Regions from separate parts of the Homo sapiens genome. Here region 1 is linked to region 2. Evidence: fine-mapped expression QTL. Tissue or cell type: nasal epithelium. Region 2 holds a variant in brackets; the other region holds the start of a gene. All regions are shown on one strand. Distances are between the middles of the regions.

Region 1 (10,463 bases), 53 kb before region 2:
AAGGATCCTTTTCTTCTTCCTCTAGGGTCATTATGTGTTATCAGAAAGTCAATCAGAATTGGAAGAAAAGCAAACTTCTGCCCTCTCTGGTGGAGTCCAGGTCGAGCCACCTGCACACAGTGACTCCCTGGACCCCCAGACCAACAGCCAACAGCAGACCACACAGTACATCATCACCACCACCACCAACGGGAACGGAAGCAGCGAAGTGCATATCACCAAACCATGACTTCCACCCTGGAGCTTGAATCCAGCACCCACCTCATGTCTGTTCTCATAAGTCTGAAAGCTCTGACACGTAGAGCTCTTTTGTAAGATTTATTATTCACTCAAGAGTTCGGAAACCACAGTTTTGTCTCTCATCCATACACTGGGGTTTATTTTGCCAAGGTCATCTTTATCAAATTGACTCTTCAAACCCTCGGTTTTTGCCACAGAACAGAGATCTTTCAGGGGAAAGTAGATTTCGAGGTGGAGAGAATTTGCCTTGCTCTTGAGCTGGTCTTTTAACATACTGACGAGCCTTACTTTTCCTTTGTGGAAATATTAAGTGGCATATTGTGTTCATACCAAAGGTGGAGACAGGATGTGCCAAGTTCATGGTTACTGGACTTCTTATTCCAAGCCATGGCACCAAAGGAGAAGGGGCATTTTGTGGGTGTGCATTAGGTCTGAACTGCTTTATCTTGTTTTAGTTTTCAGTAATTTAACAAAGGGAGCCTGCTGAATAACAAAATTAAAATGATGAAACAAAAGTTTGACAGTGATATTCTGAAGCAAAAACTGTCATCTAAATTTTTCTTGCTGATTTTTTTTAACTTCCCTATTTTAGAAAACTATTGTTGGGCTGTTGGTAGTGCTTTCCACAGATGCTGGTCCTCAGTGGATTAGGTCAGAAGCTCATGTTCTGATAGTTCTTCATTATTTCACAAAGGTGGACAACCTGAAAGAGAAAAGGCTGCTTGATGTCAGCAGAATCTAAACCCCTACATTAAAGCTTTGCCTCCCATTCTGTGGTTGTGGTGGTGGTAAGAAGGAGATATTGGTACCAAGAAAAATTTCCAAAACTATTGAGAGAGAGAGAGAGAAAGTATTGAAATTTTGTTCTGCCTTGCAGGATCCATTTATCATTCATTGGTAAAGGATATATTCCTTGTTCTTACCAAGTGTACATTTAACTCTTGCTGACATGTTCAGTGTATTTTATTACTTTTAATGCTGTCTTAAAATGAACATTCTTTAAAGTTGGACAGGAAGGTGGCATTTCTTATTTATTAACATTTTTAACTTTAAACATATTGTGACTCATCTAGACCTTTTAATAAGACGGTCAACTTCACACTTAGGGAAAAAATTAAAATGTGATGGCCACTTCTAATAATTCAGGTAGTTATAAGGGATCTGGAAGAAATCCAGTCTTTATGAATATACTATTAGTTGGGCATTAAAAAATCAGTATATATTTTAACTTTTTGTGACATGCTAACACATTTTCAGAATAATTATTGCATAGTAGAATTTATTACTCCAGAACAGAAAGACCTTACTTCATTTCAAATGAAGTTAATTAATTTACATTTCTGGGTAAAAACTGGTTCTATAAATTAAGTAGAGTAGCTTCTTTATGATAAAGACAATTTTCTGAAAAGTGAACAATTCTGTTAAAAGAACTTTATTGATGTGTAGATTTCGCACTTTATTTCTGAGACTGCGTTCATGTAGTTGTTCCCCAATGTTTGAGTACTAAGAGAACTTGAGAAAATTACTTCATAAACATATGGAAACTGAAAATGGACTCTCTTTGTGACAAAGATATTCAACAGAAAATATTGACCCTGCATTGCAAAACACAGGTTCGGGTTCCCTAAGTCCCACAGTGTAATGATTACAAATATCCTAGTGTCCGGTCTAGAAAGACTTTCTAGGAGAAGACTAGTGGAATTTTCTAAAGGTTCAGTTTTAGCTTTTATAACTTAAATTTGGCCCTGTTACGTTCTTTTTAATTTGAACCATAAGGTATCTCCCCTCCCTTCAGGAATAACTTATTGGAAAACTGAAAAGAATCACTGAATGGAATGTTCATTTTATGGCAGTTGTTTTAAGTTTTAAAATACACAGAGGAAAATATTGTGGAAGGACCTCTTTGTTGCTTTCCCTTCTAAGTTGTCTTCTTCTTCTTCTTCTTCTTCTTCTTCTTTGGTCCTTAAGTGAAATAAAGACTCTAAAACTAATTTGTATATTATCAGCCAGAGATGCGGATGGCAGTCGAGCCAAATCGCATGGCTTTCAGATCAGGTATTCTGCACATTCATTCCAAGGTCATAGATTTTTAAAAGGACCTGGATTTGAAGAGATGGCAAATGATGAGCCATCAGAAAACTTAATTTGGAAAACATGTATGTAGCCAGTGTGGATATTGTGGCCTCTCTCAAGACACATTGACACTGTAGACTTCATTCAGTCCAGTGTGAGTATTTTGGAGTAGGTTGGATGTAGATTTTGTTTTTATCATTGATTTGTACCGACAGAAATAGACATTTCATCATGTAAAATTCCTGTTATTCTGGAAAAACCTATTGTTTTGATCTTCTTGTTTTCTGACTTGGAAGTATCCTTTCAAAAAAACTCTTAAGATATCTAGGTCTAAAAAGCACTTCATGAGATGCTAAAGCTGACCCACTGGTTGAAAATGTTGACCCTATCCTGTTATTTAAATGTGAACATTTATTGTACATTCAGTGAGTTATAGTGTTAATAGTCTTGTGCTATGCAGCAGGTGTAAAAATTAATAAATATATTTTTTAATAAACATGTTTGTATGTGTGAAGCTACAAGAGCTATTTTTTTTTCTTTGAAGAATTGCAACTTTTGGTTTCCAGCGTGGCATACAGGAAGCTTGGAAGTTGTCCCTCCATCCTAGCAATAAGTAAGAAGCTGAGCAAATGGAAAGATCAACATCTCTCCTTAGATCCATCAGAAAGTTGAGCCCACAGGACAAACTGCTGTCCCCAAAATTGGAAAGACAAACAGGCAAATACAGAGAATCATAGCTTATTGAACAGAAACCCGTGAGAAAAAAATCCACGATCAATAACCTCTATGAGAACCAGCGCCAGGGTAGGAAAACTTGAACTATATTTGATGAATTGCTGCAGGCTCAGCGTGGAGAAATCTGAGAGGTTAAAAACTCCAGGGAACTCAGTCACTGGAGGGGGGGTCAAGGGAGACCCACACTTTTGTGAGTTTTATCCCCAGGAGCTTGACTAGGTTCTCACAGTGAAATTTGGAGAAAAATTCCCTCATGCTTCCAGCAGAGGAAGGGGAGAAGGAACCATTTTGAAATACTCCAGAGCTTTCTGATCTTTCTATTATAACAAGCACCGAACCTGCTGAAGTTATAGCAGAACCTCAGTCACCTGGAGGAAAGGAAATAGCCAGCCCCAGCCCATTCCAGCCATTGTCCCTCATCTAAGAGGGGATAACTGCGTAGCATTCGTGAAGTTCACAGTCCAGAGGCACAGGCTCACCAGAAGACTGAGGCCTCCTTTAGGAATACAGAATGCTTCCCCAACCCCAACACCTTACCACCACATTGCTAAAGGCCTACTTACAGAAGCTCTCTCTACCTGGCACATCATGACCAGCTATCAAGAAAAACATTACAAGGCATACTAAGAGGCAAAAGACACAAGTTTGAAGAAAGAGAGCAAACATCAGACCCAGAATTAGATATGGCCGAGATGTTGGAATTCACAGACTGGGAATTTGAAACAACTGTGATTAATATGAAAAGGGCTCTACTAGAGAAAGTAGACAACAAGCAATAACAAACAATGTAAGGAGAGAGATGGAAATCCTAAGAATGAGCTAAAATGCTAGAGATAAAAAATGAAGAGTAGGCTGGGCACGGCAGCTCATGCCTGTAAACCCAGCACTTTGGGAGGCTGAAGTGGGTGGATCATTTGAGGTCAGGAGTTCAAGACCAGCCTGGCCAACACGGTGTAACCCTGCTTCTACTAAAAATACAAAAATTAGCCAGGCGTGGTGGTGGGTGCCTGTAATCCCAGCTACTCAGGAGGCTGAAGTGGGAGAATCGCTTGAACCTGGGTGGTGGAGGTTGCAGAGAGCTGAGATTGCGCCTCTGCACTCCAGCCTGGGTCACAGTGCAAGACTCCACCTCAAAAAAAAAAAAAAAAAAAAAAAAAACATGAAGAGTAGCTGTGAGAGGCTAAATGGTAGACTAGACACATCTTAGGAAAGAATTGCTGAGCTTAAGGATATCTCAATAGAAACCTCTATAACTGAAAGACAAACAATATCCAAAAACTGTGAGATGATGAAAAAAAGGTATAACTATGCCTCATGGGAATACTAGCAGAAGACAGAGAAAGGAACAGAAGAAATATTTGAAGCAATAATGATTGATTATTTCCCCAAATCAATATGGAAGATGAAACCACAGATCCGGGAAGCTCAGAGGACACACAGGATAAATGCAAAAAAATCCTTCAAAACCAAAAAACAAATGAACAAAAAATGACTTTTCTTCAGAAACTGTGCACACAAGGAGCGAGTGGAATGAAATGTTTAAGGTGTTGAGAGAAAAAAGCAGTGTCTAACCTAGAATGCTGTAGCCCATGAAATTATCCCCCAAAAGCAAAGGGGATTTGTTGCCAGTAGACCTGCCTTGGAGAGAATGTTAAGTTTTTCAGAGAGAAGAAAAATGATAAAAGTCAGAACCTCAGATCTATATAAAGAAAGAACATCATTATTACCTTTAATAATGAAGGTAAAGGAAAAGTCTTACTTATTCTTTGTTGTTTTATTTTTCTTTTTACTTTTTTGAGACAGGGTTTCACTCTGTTGCCCAGGCTGGAGTGCAGTGGTGCAATCACAGCTCACGGCAGCTTCGATCTCCCTGGCTCAAGCGATTCTCCCACCTCAGTCTCCTGAGTAGCTGGGACTACAGGCACGTGCCACCACACCTGGCTAATTTTTTGTATTTATTTTAGTAGAGATGGGGTTTCACCATATTGCCCAGGCTGGTCTCCAATTCCTGGGCTCAAGTGATCCACCCATCTCAGCCTCTCAAAGGGGAAGATCCTGGGCATTGGGACTGAGGTGTTTTTGATACGTTCATGCAAAGATGCCTGGAGTGGGTGGTTGGATTTCTGGGTTGTTTGATTCATAATTGCTTGATTCATAATTGCCAAAACCTGGAAACAATGAAGATATCTTTCAGTAAGCGAATAGATAAAACTGTGATATATCGACACAATGGAATATTATTCAGCACTAAAAAGAAATAGGAGCTATCAAGCCATGAAAAGACATGGAGGAAACTTCAATGCCTGTTACTACGGGAAGGAAGCCAATCTGAAACGGCTACATACTATGTAATTCCAACTAGATGACACTCTGGAAAAAGGCAAAACTATGGAGACAAAAAGATCAGCGGTTGCCAGGGGTAGAGGAGAGGGAGAGATGAATATGCAGAGCACAGATGATTTTTAAGACAGTGAAATTACTCTGCATTATACTGTGATGGTGGGTAATGATGTATCAATGTAGGTTCATCAGTTCTTTTGTTTGAGATGGAGTCTCGCTCTGTCTCGCTCTGTCGACAGGCTGGAGTGCAATGGCTCAATCTCGGCTCACTGCAACCTCCGCCTCCCCGGTTCAAGCAATTCTCCTGCCTCAGCTCCCGAGTAGCTGGGACTACAGGTGCCCGCCACCACGACCGGCGAATTTTTGTATTTTTAGTAGAGACGCGGTTTCACCATGTTGGCCAGGATGGTCTCGATCTCCTGATCTCGGGATCCGCCCGCCTCGGCCTCCCAAAGTGTTGGGATTACAGGCGTGAGCCACCAGGCCGGGCCGGGTTCATCAGTTCTAAGAAATGTACCACTCTGGTAGAGGATGTTGATAAAGGGAAGGCGATGCATGTGGGGAGGTGGGGCGGGGAGTATTTGGAAAATATCTTTCTGCTCAATTTTGTTAACTTTAAACCACTTTAAAAAAACAAAGTCTATCAAAAATTATAGTTTACATTGTTTTTACTCTTTTTCTCTTTCTGGTCTTGTCACAATCTCAAGGTAAGGGAAATATCGGTGACAACTATAGAGTGATATTCCACTGCCATTTATACTCGATAGTTTCTAATTCAAGAGCCTCTCAACAGTGTAACAGGAACTTAGAGCATATGTGGAGCCAGTAGAGGAACAGAGATCGGGTTGTTTGGAAACTACTCTCTTCCAGGAAGGGAAGAACATTAGCTCGGCCGGCCGGCTTCTCTGGTCCCATCCACACACAGAACTGAGGATGGTCTCTGCGCCACTGCTGGGAGTACCTGGAATAAGTAGTGTGAAGCCGTACTAAGCAAAACCCAGTGAATAACAGGAAAGGGGCCTTCATATCTAAGAAGAGGAAAATGATGGAGTTTAACTTTAAAATGTGATCCTTCGATGTGTTTACATTCTTTCTGGACATCGAGGGCCCGGGGACGGGAAGGAGGAATGAAGGAACTCGGAAGCACAGGCTGAGGTCGCGTTCTACTCATGTCCTCAACTGTAAAATGGGCACTAATAGTGCATAGCTCACAGGGCTGCAGCACAAAGACGGTGGGTAGAAAGTGCTTAGCATAGGGCCTGGGGCAGGGTATGCTCTCTGCAAACGTCAGCTAATAGACGTGCCTTCGCTCACGGGCTATGGAACTTTGATTCGCGGTCAGGCAAAGACAGGCACTGTCTGGGGCCTCTGGAAGCTCCTAAATCAGGTGAGACGCGCAAGCAGGCTGGAACCTGCATCCCCAGGCCCAGCCGCGCGCAGGCACCCTCGCCGACCCTCCGCTCTCCCGAGCCGCTCCAGGACCCGCCCGCTGTGGCCCCGCCCCGGCACCCTCCAGGCCCCGCCCCGCGCTGCCCCGCCCCTTCCGCCGCGCAGGCCCAGAGCGTGCGCGCACCCAGACTCCTTGCGGGAGCGAGTGCGTCTGGGAGCCCGCGGCCGGAGAAGGGCTGCGGGTTAGGGGGCCGGCGCCCGCGGTTCAGGTGAGGGCGGGCAAGGGGCGGCGAAAGGGTTGAAGTGTCTCCTGGGAGTGGAGGGAGCGGGAGCGGGCGGCTGGGTCCGCGAGGTCGCTGCCCGTGTGGGCGTGGGGAGCGGGAGCGGGGCGTGGGGAGCGGTGCGACGCGTGAGGCTGGGGGTTAGGGTTAGGCACGGCGTGGGGGAGGGGCGGGGCCGAGCCGTGCAGTTCTGAGGATTGGACCCGGGCCTTGGGCCAGCCGGGCTGGCACCGGAGGGGAATTTGCTGCAGAGTTGAGGGCTTTGGAGCCGGCGGTTGCTCTGGAAGGACCCGAGGGTTTAGCTTCTGCGTTGGGGAGGGTCCAGCGGGGAAAGTTAGACCAGGTGCTGAAAGCCAGTGATGAGAGGCCGAGAGGCCTTCGTGGTCTAGTGAAGAGGTTCAGAACGCCCGAAGATCTGGAAATCCTTGGCTTCCGGGGTCCAACTCCCTGGCAGCTGCCTGGTTTTGGTATTTTGAGATTCTGTTCAGAATAGTGGCAGTGCAAAGGTTGTCAGTGGACTAGATTAACTTTAGCTAGACACGCACCGTCACTGAAGAAACTTGTGAGCAAGTTGTATAGAGACCTCCTAAGAGGCAGGTAGGACACTGACTTTGCAGTTGATAGTCTGTTCTATGCCAGTTCTGTTAAGAAGGTTTTATTCTGAGCATCAGGTTGCTTCTGCAATTTTTTTTTGGTGCTATTTTGAAGTTTTGTTAAACTCACATGCTATGTGCTGTCTCACCCGCTTCACTTATTTAGGCATAGGCATGATGAGGATGTCATTTCACCATGTGCTGAAGGGTGATGAGGGGGCACAGTTGCTTGGGGACCACCCACGTGACTTGACTCAACGCTTAAGTTTCTGCTATATCTTTACATGGATCTGAAATCTCTTCAAGGGAGCTTGAAATAATTTAGTGGAACATGCTTCATTTTACATATAGTTATTCTAGAACTGTTCTTTATCATTGGAGAATTTTGGAAAAGAAAAGTACCTGTATTACGTAATTCACACTGTCACTCATCTAGAGATTATTCATTGCAGGATTCCAGAATTGGAAATAACGGGAGGGAGGACCTGGTCCAGCTTCCCTTCCTCAAATAAGGAAATTGACACCTGGCGTGGTAAGATTTGTGGAATGTGGTGTTTGTGGAATGTGGAATATGGAATTCTGGTGTTTTGACTGTTAACATCCTTTTTTCTTTTCATTTTAGTATGCTTTTTAGCCCACTTTGTAGGAATAGGAGCTGGAAAGGATGGATTTAGTAAATGTTGGTAGAGTGATTGAGTTTAAGCTCCCTGTGGTCCTGTTAGCATTGTGCAGTCCTGTGCTATCAACTTGACCCCTAATCCCAGCCATCAGTCTGAAAATGTTGTGGTATGTAGTTTTCTGAAGGTGATCAGCAGTGTTCTGTTATTACACGAAGGAGAAAAGTAGCATTAATTTACATGATTATACGGATCAAATGGACCAACTAAAGGCAGATTGGCCATTGACTTTACTGGTGGTTATGGTCAGGTGTGTGGAACCTCAGGAATTTATATGGACTAATAAAGTCATATCAGTAAGGTTCGTTTTTATTATTTAAATGTTGCGAGGTTATACAAGAGGTATTGTGTGTAGCATTAAGCACATGGGTTTGCAGGCAGGTAGACCTGAGTTTCAGTACTGCCTCTGGGGTTGGGCAAGTTACTGACCTACTCTGATTTTCAGTTTTAATTCCGATGTAATAACCCATGACCTTACTTTGCACAGTTGTAGGAATTAAATGAGATATGTGAAAGGCCTGGCTTTTAATAGGCCCTCATAAAGTGACTGTTAGCATTTGCATTTTACTAGTGTATGTTGATTTTCAGCAAATTTTCTTTTGTGAAAGAACAACAAACAATATTCTTTCTCTTTTTCCTTTCCTTTTTTTTTTTTTTTGAGACAGGGTCTCTGTTGCCCAGGCTGGAGTGCAGTAGCGTGATCACGGCTTATTGTACCCTCTGCATCTCGTGTTCAAGCGATCCTCCCACCTCAGCCTTCTGAGTAGCTGGGACTACAGGCGTGCGCCACCACGCCTGGCTGATTTTTTTTTTTTTTTTTTTTTGTAGAGAAGGGGTTTTGCCATGTTCGCTAGGCTGGTCTCAAACTCATGGATTCAAGGGGACTGCCCGCCTGGACCTCCCAAAGTACTGAGATTGTAGGTGTGAGTTACTGCACCCAGCCAACAACAAAGAATTAATTGCTAAAAAACAGTTGTTACAGAAATTACATTGTGGGAGAGTGATTATTGGTCTGGGAAGTGTAAATTATAGATTGTGATCTGTTTATCATTTATTCTCAGTCTCATTTTACTCATCTGTAAAATGAAGGCATATGAAATTTATGAATTTAGGAGTTACTGTAGGAGCATTCTGAGAAAAGAGCTCTTCCAGGTAAGACTTGAAAATTCCAGTGGGAATGCTGTGGTGAAAGGGAGGGAGGAGAGCTGTTTAGCTGTAATTAGGGTGCAAGGATAAGGTGTAAGAACTGGCTGGAGGTTGAATGTTTTCCTGGAGGAGTGTTAGCATCAACTAGATCCCTGGAATTTCTGCCTTTCTGTCTCAAGATGCATGTCTTTGTCCAGAGTACCTGTGGAGAAGAAACAATGGATTCCTTAGACCATATGCTGACAGATCCTCTGGAACTTGGTCCGTGTGGAGATGGCCATGGCACGCGCATCATGGAGGATTGCCTCCTGGGAGGCACCAGAGTTAGTCTGCCCGAGGACCTTCTGGAGGATGTGAGTAGTAACACGGTTGTGACCTTTTCCTCTCTGTCAGCTTCCTTGTAACAGCTGTGGGAAACCTTTTCCACTCTACATTTCCAGTCTTTTGTGCTCCCTTTTGTTCATTTTCTACATTGCAGGCAGCCTGATCTCTTATCTTTTTTTTAAGTTTAGAGTCTATTTAATATCCGATTAAGGAAGAAAACAAGCTACGTTCCGCATGTTTAATAACATGCCAGAATAACTTGATAACATGATTTAAGCCCTATTTTTAACAAGATAATTTTCATCCATTAAAAATGGTTGTGTATTTTAACCATGGAATACTACTCAGCCATAAAAAGGAATGAAATAATGGCATTTGCAGCAAACTGGATGGAATTGGAGGTCATTATTCTAAGTGAAGGAACTTGGGAATGGAAAACCAAACATCATTCTCACTTATAAGTGGCAGCCAAGCTTTGAGGACACAAAGGCATAAGAATGATAATGGACTCTGGGGACTTGGGGGGAAGGATGGGAGTCGGGTGAGGGGTAAAAGAATACACATTGGGTGCAGTGTACACTGCTTGGGTGATAGGCGCACCAAAATCTCAGAAATAACCACTAAAGAACTCACCCATGTAACCAGACACCACCTGTTCCCCCAAT
Region 2 (10,629 bases):
AGTTTCAGGGGAAGGGCCCAGGCGCCTGCGGGGTCTCAGAGATCACTGCCTAGGGCCACCTCAGGTCTCTGCTCCCCACATTTCCAGCAGAGCATTCCTCCGTCACCCTAGCTGTGGCTCAAGCAGGACCAGGTGCAGGTTGGGCCACTGCTCCAGAGGGCGCAAGTTATAAATCTTGGTGGCATCCATGTGGTGCTGACTCTGTAGGTATGCATACTGTATGAGCTGTGGGAGCACGGCCGCCTCCACCTCGATGGAAAGGATTTCTTTGACCTCAGGGCCCGAGCAGAGATTTGTCACCGGGGTGGAGCCACTGCAGAGAGCCCCCAGTAGGCCAATACTTAGGGAAGCCTTGGAGGTGGTATCACCTGGAGCCTTGGGGGCCCAACACCCACCCCAGTGTGTTCAGAAGGTGAGATATGGAGTCAGATAATATTATTCTCAAGCCTAAGATCTAATGTTGAGTTTTGGACTCACTTGAGACCTGTTGTTACTCCTTTCTTCCTTCCTGTTTCTCCCTTTTGGACTAGAAACATCTGTCCTGTGCCTGTCACGCCATTGTATTTGAATCAAAGTACGCAACTCATTTGAATTCACAGGCTCACAGCTGGAGAGAAATTTGCCTCAGGATGAAATTTATCTCAAAGTGAATGAGTCTCTCTCACACCTGACTTAGATAAGATTCTGGACTTAGATTTTAAAGTTCATGTTGGAATGATTTAAGGCTTTTGAGGGCAATTGTGGTGGAATGAATGTATTTTGTTTGTGAGAAGTACGTGAATTCTGGGGGGCCAGGATTGGAATGCTATGGTGTGAATGGGTCCCCTCCAAAATTCAGGTGTTGCCGGTGTGATAGTATTAGATGTGGGGCCTTTAAGAGCTGATTAAGCCATGAAGGTTCCTCCCTTGTGGATGGGATTAAGCACCCTTATAAAGGGCTGAATGGAGGGAGTTGCTTCCCTTTTTTGCCCTTTCTGCCATGTGAGGCTACAGCCTTCAACAGACACCACATACCAGTGCCTTGATATTGGACCTCCAAACCTTCAGAACTGTGAGAAATAAATTTGTTCTTTATAAGTTACCCAGTCTGTGGTATTTTGTTGTAGCAGCACAAGCAGACTGAGACAGTGATCTAGAAAAGACCACCCCGGAATGTAAAGCATTCCTGGTCTGCACAGCATATTCCAACCCTGGACACAGGCCCGTCCCTCTAGCACCAGCTACATTGTCAGGGCTGTTTCACATCTTACACATTGACAGATGAGGGTCCCACCCATCATCAAGAACTTCATAAGCCCTCTCCCTCTCCCTCTCCCTCTCTTTCCACGGTCTCCCTTTCATGCCGAGCCGAAGCTGGACTGTGCTGCTGCCATCTCGGCTCACTGCAACCTCCCTGCCTGATTCTCCTGCCTCAGCCTGCCGAGTGCCTGGGATTGCAGGCCCGCGCCGCCACGCCTGACGGGTTTTCGTATTTTTTTGGTGGAGACGGGGTTTCGCTGTGTTGGCCGGGCTGGTCTCCAGCTCCTAACCGCGAGTGATCCGCCAGCCTCGGCCTCCCGAGGTGCCGGGATTGCAGACGGAGTCTCGTTCACTCAGTGCTCAATGGTGCCCAGGCCGGAGTGCAGTGGCGTGATCTCGGCTACAACCTCCACCTCCCAGCTGCCTGCCTTGGCCTCCCAAAGTGCCGAGATTGCAGCCTCTGCCCGGCCGCCACCCCGTCTGGGAAGTGAGGAGTGTCTCTGCCTGGCCGCCCATCGTCTGGGATGTGAGGAGCCCCTCTGCCTGGCTGCCCAGTCTGGAAAGTGAGGAGCGTCTCTGCCCGGCCGCCATCCCATCTAGGAAGTGAGGAGCGTCTCTGCCCGGCCGCCCCTACTGGGAAGTGAGGAGCCCCTCTGCCCGGCCACCACCACCCCATCTGGGAGGTGTACCCAACAGCTCATTGAGAACGGGCCATGATGACAATGGCGGTTTTGTGGAATAGAAAAGGGGGAAAGGTGGGGAAAAGATTGAGAAATCGGATGGTTGCTGTGTCTGTGTAGAAAGAAGTAGACATGGGAGACTTTTCATTTTGTTCTGTACTAAGAAAAATTGTGCCTTGGGATCCTGTTGATCTATGACCTTACCCCCAACCCTGTGCTCTCTGAAACATGTGCTGTGTCCACTCAGGGTTAAATGGATTAAGGGCGGTGCAAGATGTGCTTTGTTAAACAGATGCTTGAAGGCAGCATGCTCGTTAAGAGTCATCACCACTCCCTAATCTCAAGTACCCAGGGACACACACACTCTGCCTAGGAAAACCAGAGACCTTTGTTCACTTGTTTATCTGCTGACCTTCCCTCCACTATTGTCCTGTGACCCTGCCAAATCCCCCTCTGCGAGAAACACCCAAGAATGATCAATAAAAAAAAATAAAAAAAAATAACTTCATAAGCTTTTAAAAAAATGCTTACAGTTTTCAGAAAATCAACTCGTATGAAAGACTTATAGTGAAAAGCAACAGCCTCATGTTCTGTCCCTCCTCACCCCCAGCAAAGCCACTTTCAACCCTTTCAGCTGTTTCCTCCGGTATTTACCTCCACCATTGTAGTTAATGGGTGGGTGCAAACGTAATGGCAAAAACCACAATTACTTTTGCACCAACCTAATGCTTTGTGCATGTGGTCATTTGTTAATCCATCATTGTCAGGCATCACCTACCAACTTCCTGGAGCTCTCTCACAGCCTCTCCCTCTTCCCCACCCTGCTATTTTCATAGCAGTTGCATTATACTCGTTTGTTGAAATCATTAGTTTCATTATCATGGCTCTGTAAATCCAAAGTCCTTACCAGGGCCAATAAGGCCATATACGATCCTGAGCCATCTCTTTGATTTCTCCCAGCACTCATCCCCTGCCACACTGGATCCCTTCCATTCCCTTAAATGGCTGAGAACACTCCATTCCTGCTTCAGGACATTGCACTGTCTGTGGCTTCTAGAACAGTGTTCCCACAGGCAGCCAACAGTTGTCTCCTTCACTTTACTCAGGTCTCTGTTCAAATGCCACTTTATTCCGTGACTCCTGCATGTACAATAGAGGCCTGCCCCACTTTTCAATCTATGTAGACTTGTAACTTTTCTGTAAAGTATGAATCACCATCTGATATTGCAGACTGATTTTTTTTTAAGCATCTGTCATCATCCACTAAAATGTGGGCCTCTGGAAAGCAGAGATTTGATCTATTTGCTTATTGTGGTTAGTCCACAGCTTACCGCAGGGCCAGACACAGAGTGAGCACTCAGTAAATACTTGTGGAATGAATGAATGCAGATCCAAGTAGTGTATTATGGGTTATGTTTTCTCTAACACTTTTTTTTTTTTTTGAGAAAGAGTCTTGCTCTGTCGCCCAGGCTGGAGTGCAGTGGCATGATCTCTGCTCACTGCAACTTCCACCTATGTGTTCAAGCGATTCTCCTGCCTCAGCCTCCTGAGTAGCTGGAATGAAGGATGGTGCCACCACGCCTGGCTAATTTTTGTATTTTTAGTAGAGACAGGGTTTCACCATGTTGACCAGGCTGGTCTTGAATTCTTGACCTCAGGTGATCCACCTGCCTTGACCTCCCAACATGCTGGGATTACAGGCGTGAGCCACCGCACCTGGCCTAACACTTTTGTTTTATTCTGGGGTTAATAATTGCATTGTTTTTTTACTTGTTTATCTTCCCAAATACTGATCACTATGTTTTTCCTCCAAAGGGCTAAAAGATCTGTCAAATGTTGACCAAATTAAATTCTAGACATTTTAACCTCAGATAACTTATTTCTGTTTTATTCCTAGAGACCTGTTTTGAGAATATTCTCTTTAAAATTGAACTGGCTGTCTGTCCTCCTGGGGCATTCTGCACCATCTTACAAATTCCCTTTGCCTTTTTCTTGTTTTCCACCCACCCTACCTTTTGCTGCAGCTTCCAGAAGAGGCTTTTCCTTGTTTTGGATCCCCTGTTTCTTGGATGCCATTTATTTTTCTTTCTTGGCTTATTTCCATTAATATAAGTCTAGCATTCCCAAAACTATGCATAAAAGGGAAATTCCTTGAGAATTTGCATAGTTGACAATCTCTGCCTTTTTATTGGGACGGTTTATTTAGTCCATTCATATTAATGTAATTATTGGTGTGGTTATATTTATAGTTGTCATTTTGCTATTTGTTTTCTGTCACTCATGCATTTTTTTGTTCCTCC[G/A]TGCCTCATTTCCTGCTGTCATTTATGTCTAACAAGTAATTTTAGTATACCATTTTAATTACTTTTTTCATATTTTAAGCTATATATATTTTTTTCCTACTGCATGCTCTAGTCTAGGGATTATAGTATGCATCTTGAAGTTACCATGGTCTATTTTAATAGTAACTTAATTCTGATAAAATATAGTGACTTTGTTCCAATATATAATAGCTCTATTTCCTACCCCTTCCTTCATGCATACACACACACACACACACACACACACACACATCTATAATAGCTCTATTTCCTACCCCTTCCTTCATGCATACACACACACACACACACACACACACATACACACACACAAAATAAGCCATTAATATATATGAATGGACTAAATAAGCCACTCTAATAAACAGGCAGAGACGTGTGCGTGTGTGTGTACACATATATGTACATATCATATTTATGTTTGGGCTTGTTATAAAGTTTTTAAGATTTAAGAATATATAAAGTCTAGGTTATAAACTAATGGTGTGGCAATTATTTCTTGAAGCAATTTTACATTTTTCAAAGCATGAATATATATATATTCTTTGATATTTAATCACATATTTACCATTTCCAGCGTTCTTCATTTCTTTCTGTCCATTTTAATAACTCTAAAACCTCATTTTCTTTCGACCTGAAGGATGTCCTTTAATATTTTTTCAGCTTTATTGCGGTATAATTGACAAATAAAAATTGTATATACTCAGGGTATATAACATGATGATTTGATATATGTATACATTGTGAAATGATTGGTATGATCAAGCTAATTAACAGAGTTATCACCTTACCTGGTACCCTTTCCTTTCCTTTGTAATGAGAATCCTTAAGATCTACTCTCTTAGCAAATGTCAAATATAAGGTTTATTATTATTACTATTATTTTTAGAGACAGGGTCTCGCCCTATCACCGAGGGTGGAGTGCAGTGGCATAATCATAGTTCACTGCAGCCCTGAACTTCTTGGGCTCAAGTGATCCTCCGCCTCAGCCTCATAAGTAGTTAGGACTACAGGTGCAGGCCACCACGCCTGGCCAATTTAAAAAATTTTTTGTAGAGACAACGTCTCGCTATGTTGCCCAGGCTGGTCTTGAATGTTTGGGTTCAGGCTATTCTCTCGCCTCAAACTCCCAAGGTGCTGCGATTACAGACATAAGCCACTGTGCCTGGCCAGTATATTATTATTAATGATAGTCACCCTCCTGTACATTAGGTCTCCAAAATTTACTCATAACTGCAAGTTTGTACCCTTTGACCAATATCTCCCCATTTCCCCCACTGCTCCAGAACCCTGGTAACAGGTATTCTATTCTGTTTATATCCAGTTTGATTATTTTAGATTCCACATATAAGTGAGATCACACAGCATTTTTTCTGTGTCTGGCTTATTTCCCTTAGTATAAGGTCTTCAAGGTTCATCCATGTTGTTGCAAATAGCAGGATTTCCTTCTTTTTTAAGGCTGAATAATATCCCATTCTATATATATATACACCACATTTTTTTTGTCCATTCATCAATCAGTGAACACTTAGATTGTTTCCATATCTTGGCTATTGCAAACAAAGCTGCAGTGACCATGGGAGGGCAGATATCTTTTCAAGATAGGGAGTTTATTTGCTTTCGATATATACACAGAAGTGAAATTGCTGGATCATAGGGTAGCTCTATTTTTAATTTTTTGAGAAACCTCCACACTGTTTTCCATAATAGATGTACCAATTCACATTCCCACCAACAGTATGTAAAGGTTCCCTTTATCCACATCCACACCAATCTTGTTTTGTTTTTTGTTTTGATTTTTTGGCAACAGCCATCCCAACAGGTATAAGGTAATATCTTATTGTGACTTTGATTTACATTTCCCTGACGATTAGTGATGTTGAGCATCTTTTCATAAACCACTTGGCCATTGTATGTCTTCTTTAGAGAAATGTCTATGCAGGTCCTTTGCCCACTTTTTTTTTTTTTTCTCAAAGCAGAAAATTTATTGCCTACATTCTTTGACTACAATGCTATAACAACAGAAATATTTTCTTTTACAAAAATCTCAATCACCTTAAACATTTTTTAAGTCACTAAATAACTTTGGGTCAAAGAAGAAATCAAAACTGCAAATACATAAAAGCAAACATCAATTGGCATTGTATACATTAGAACATATGAAATAGATTATAGTAAACAATTATTAAAACACAAAGAATCCAGGATGCGGAAAGCTGGGATGAGTATTACACCCTAACAGCAACGATAGCAGATAAACTACAAAATCATAACTTTTCCTAAACTCATTTGAGAACTGAGATCATAGGGCAATCAAAAAGTCTAAAATAGGCTGGGCACAGTGGCTCATGCCTGTAATCCCAGCACTTTGGGAGGCTGACTGAGGCAGGCGGATCACCTGAGGTGAGGAATTCAAGACCAGCCTGGCCAACATGGCAAAACTCCATCTCTACCAAAAATACAAAAAATTAGCCAGCCGTGGTGGCGCATGCCTGTAGTTCCAGCCACTCGGGAGGCTGAGGCAGAAGAATCGCTTGAACCTGAGAGGCGGAGGTTACAGTGAGCCGAGATTGCACCACTGCACTCAGCCTGTTGCCTACTTTTTAATAGGGTTATTTGTTTTTTACTATTGAGTAGTAAGAGTTTCTTGTATATTTTGGATTTAGCTCCTTATTGCATATATGGTTTGCAAATATTTTCTCCCATTCTATGGGTATCTTTACTCTCTTCATGGTTTTCTTTGCTATGCAAAAGCTTTTTACTTTGATGCAATCCTACTCCTTTACTTTTGCTTTTGTTGCCTGTGCTTTTGTTGTCATATCAAAAAAGAAATCAACGCTAGCACCAATGTCATGTATCTTTCCCTGCATATTTTCTTCTAGGAGTTTTACCATTTTAGGTCTTACATTTAAATCTTTCATCCACCTTTAGTTGATTTTTGTATATGGTGGAAGATAAAGATCCAATTTCCTTATTTTTTTTTGCATGTGGATATCCAGTTTTTCCAGCACCATTTATTGAAGATACTATTCTTTCCTCATTCTTGTTCTTGACACCTTGTAGAAGATTAGTTAACCTTATATGAGTGGGTTTATTTCTGTGCTTTCAATTCTGTTCCATTGCTCTATGTGTGTTTTTATGCCAGTACTATATTGTTTTGATTGCTATAGCTTTATAATATAATTTGAACACAGGAAGTGTGATGCTTCTGGCTTTGTCCTTCCTGTGTGGTTCTCTTTGTGTTTTTTAAATTCAGTGTTGGTTGAGTTTTAAAAAAAATCTGCAATTCAATATCTTTCATCAAACCTGGGAAGCTTTCAGCTATTACTTCTTTATTTTTTTCTCTCTCCCTTTCTGCGGCTTCCATTACACGTATGTGGGGACATTGAGCATCATCCCATGTGTGTCTGAAGGTCTGTTCATTTGTCTTCATTTTTCTTTCTGTTTTTCGAATTGGATCATTTCTATTGGTCTATTTTCATGTTCACTAGTTCTTCCACTATCTCAAAATCTGCTATTGAGCCCATCTAGTGAATTCGAAATTGTACCTTCCAACTCCAGAATTTCCATTTAATTCTTTTTACAGTTTGTATTTCTCTATTTAGATTCCCTATTTGTCGAGTCATTTAAATCATATTTTCTTTTAATTCCTTGAACAGTTTTCTTTAATTCTCTGAGGCCGGGCGCAGTGGCTCATGCCTGTAATCCCAGCACTTTGGGAGGCCGAGGCGGGTGGATCACTTGAGGTCAGGAGTTCAAGACTAGCCTGGCAAACATGGCGAAACCCCATCTCTACTAAAAATACAAAAAATTAGCCGGGCGTGGTAGTGGGTGCCTGTAATCTCAGCAACTTGGGAGGCTGAGGCAGGAGAATCACTTGAACCCAGGAGGTAGAAGTTGCAGTGAGCTGAGATCACGTCACTGCACTCCAGCCTGGGCGGGCGACAGAGTGAGACTCTTGTCTCCAAAAAAAAAAAAAAAACAAAAAAACAAAAGAAAACTTCAAGCCCATTACACTTCCAACCCCTGTCAGTCCCTCTGTGTGGGGGTTGGAGAAGGCCAGTTTTCAAGTCCCTTATCTCCCTTGCTGGGCTCTCTCAGGTCTTCTCCATATATGCATAGTTTTTTCAGTCAGCCAGGGATGCGTGAAGAGCTCACTTCAATACTTCTCTGATTCTCATTTCCAGAATCCCCCTGTTAAATTCCTGGTTGGCCTGCTGCTTGCCCCAAGTGGGGCTGCAACCTCAAGCTAGCGAAGCTGTGGATTTGTCCTGCTCATTTCCAAGTGTTCATTCCCATGTTAAGCCAGCAAAGCCAAGGATTTTCAACCCCCCAGCCACTGCTCTGAATTGAATCTGTTTGTGTGGCAGTTTTCATGGCCAGCCCCATCTTACTTAAAAGTCATTGGCTGAGCTGGGGGGTGATGGGAGCAGCCACAGGCAAAAAAAGCCACCATCTCCTACTTGCCTGAAGATCTAGTAGTTTTTCAAGAATAAATGCTGCTCAATTTTTTGCCTGCATTTTGTCAATTTCCAGTTCCCTGAAATGCTTGGTTTTGATAAACAATTTTGTCTAGTTTTATATATTTTTTGGTTGTTTGTTGCTTTTTTTTTTTTTTTTTTTTTTTTACAGAAAGAAATTGCCTGCCTCTTTGTGCTGCCATAACTGGAAGGCCTTCTCCTCGTTATTATTTTTTGAGATGGAGTTTCGCTCTTGTTGCCCAGGCTGGAGTGCAATGGTGCAATCTTGGCTCACTGCAACCTCTGCCTCCAAGCGATTCTCCTGCCTCAGTCTCCCAAGTAGCTGGGATTACAGGCGTGCACCACCACGCCCAGCTAATTTTTTTGTATTTTTAGTAGAGACAGGGTTTCACCATGTTGGTCAGGCTGATATAGAACTCCTGACCTCAAGTGATCCACCTGCCTCAGCCTCCCAAAATGCTGGGATTACAGACGTGAGCCACTGTGCCCAGCCCGCTTTCTTTTTAAACCCTCCTTTGAACATAAAAAATTTACATGTTTGTTTAATGTTTAACACAGGTCCCTTTCAATATCAAGCTTATTATACTTCATTTTCCTAGGCAAAGGTGCAGAAAAACCAGCTTTGCAAATGTAGGTCAAAACTGCACAGTGACTAACCGGCTTCCCTCCTCCCTGCACTTCCTCATTTTTCTCAGAAGCAGTACCTGAAATAAAGGCAGAGTCCTTGTCTGCCTCTATGTACTTGATACCAGCTTGTCAAGACCCACCCTTCCCTTTTACCTCGTCTAAAATTCACACCAGTGGACAGCAGGGCCTGCAGCATGTCTGTAGAAATTTATTTAAACTTATGTATGATTCATAGAAGACTGAGTACTTTGATTTGATGGGGATGGGCTATATTTCTTCCAATAACAAATTAATGGATTAGTTCATTAGATTAGCTACATTATGGAACACGTGGAGGAGATGGAGGATGAGTTAGTTTTAGTTACAGGAGGAATAAGGTAATAAATAACTTCAAGTAGAACAATAAAAATTTGGACTTCTAAATAATTTGGATAACCCATTTTCCAAATATAGGCTAAGCCCCTGCTGTGGTTTAGCATTAAAAACATTTAAATAAAATACATGTTAAATAAAAAAGTACTTAAGGAATGTGTTTCCTAATATACACAACTGGTGTGGGCAATATACAACAAAACCTTTCAATCTAAGGACAAACTTACAAATAGGAAAACAAATATCAGATAGTGCTTTTAGGTCAGGTGCAGTGGCTCACACCTGTAATCCCAGCACTTTGGAAGCCTGAGGCGGGAAGATTGCTTGAGCCCAGGTGTTCAAGATCAGCCTGGGCAACAGAGTGAGACCCGTCTCTACTAAAAATAAATTACCTGGGCATGGAAGGGCACGCCTGTAGTCCAAGCTACTCGGGAGGCTGAGATGGGAGGATTGCTTGAGCCTGTGAGGTTGAGGCTGCAGTGAGCCGTGATTGCACCGCTGACACTCCGTGTCACTCCACCGCTGGGTGACACAGTGAGACCCTGTCTCCAAAGGAAAAAAATAAGTGCTTTCACAAAGGCAAATTCCCCAACTTTCTTATTTCAATATATTTCCTTTTTTTTAAATTTCACATGAGATAGAATGGGAGTGTGAGGGGAGGATTGAATGTTTTGGACAGGTAGTAACTTTGCCTTTCACTTTCTGCTGGGCTGTCTCAGGTCTTCCCTATAGATGCATAGCTTTTCCACTCGGCCAGGGATGTGTGAAGACCTCATCTCAACACTTCCATGACTCTCATTTCCAGAATCTCCCTATTAAATCCCCAGCTGATCTGCTGCTATGGCCTAGTATTAAAAATAGCAACCAAGCTGGCCACCAAGAAGACTGGAGGTTTGG

The links. PIP is the estimated chance that this variant, and not a neighbour inherited with it, causes the effect.
Region 1: NFRKB starts here. The variant in region 2 is fine-mapped to the expression of NFRKB in nasal epithelium (TOPMed, PIP above 0.99).

What each region holds. Positions count from the first base shown.
Region 1 is chr11:129,892,079-129,902,541 of GRCh38, reverse strand. NFRKB (nuclear factor related to kappaB binding protein) reads left to right here and starts at 6,964. Exons shown (of 27, transcript NM_001143835.2): 1 at 6,964-7,046; 2 at 8,104-8,183; 3 at 9,672-9,827. The coding sequence starts at 9,693. It overlaps PRDM10 (PR/SET domain 10), which reads left to right. Exons shown (of 21, transcript NM_199437.2): 21 at 26-2,831. The coding sequence ends at 229. RefSeq lists a silencer at 6,808-7,247.
Region 2 is chr11:129,839,198-129,849,826 of GRCh38, reverse strand. The region is part of intron 1 of TMEM45B (transmembrane protein 45B); the gene reads right to left. Among named protein-coding and RNA genes, the nearest start is that of TMEM45B, 29 kb to the right of the region's middle. The variant G/A (reference allele first, on the strand shown) is at 4,220.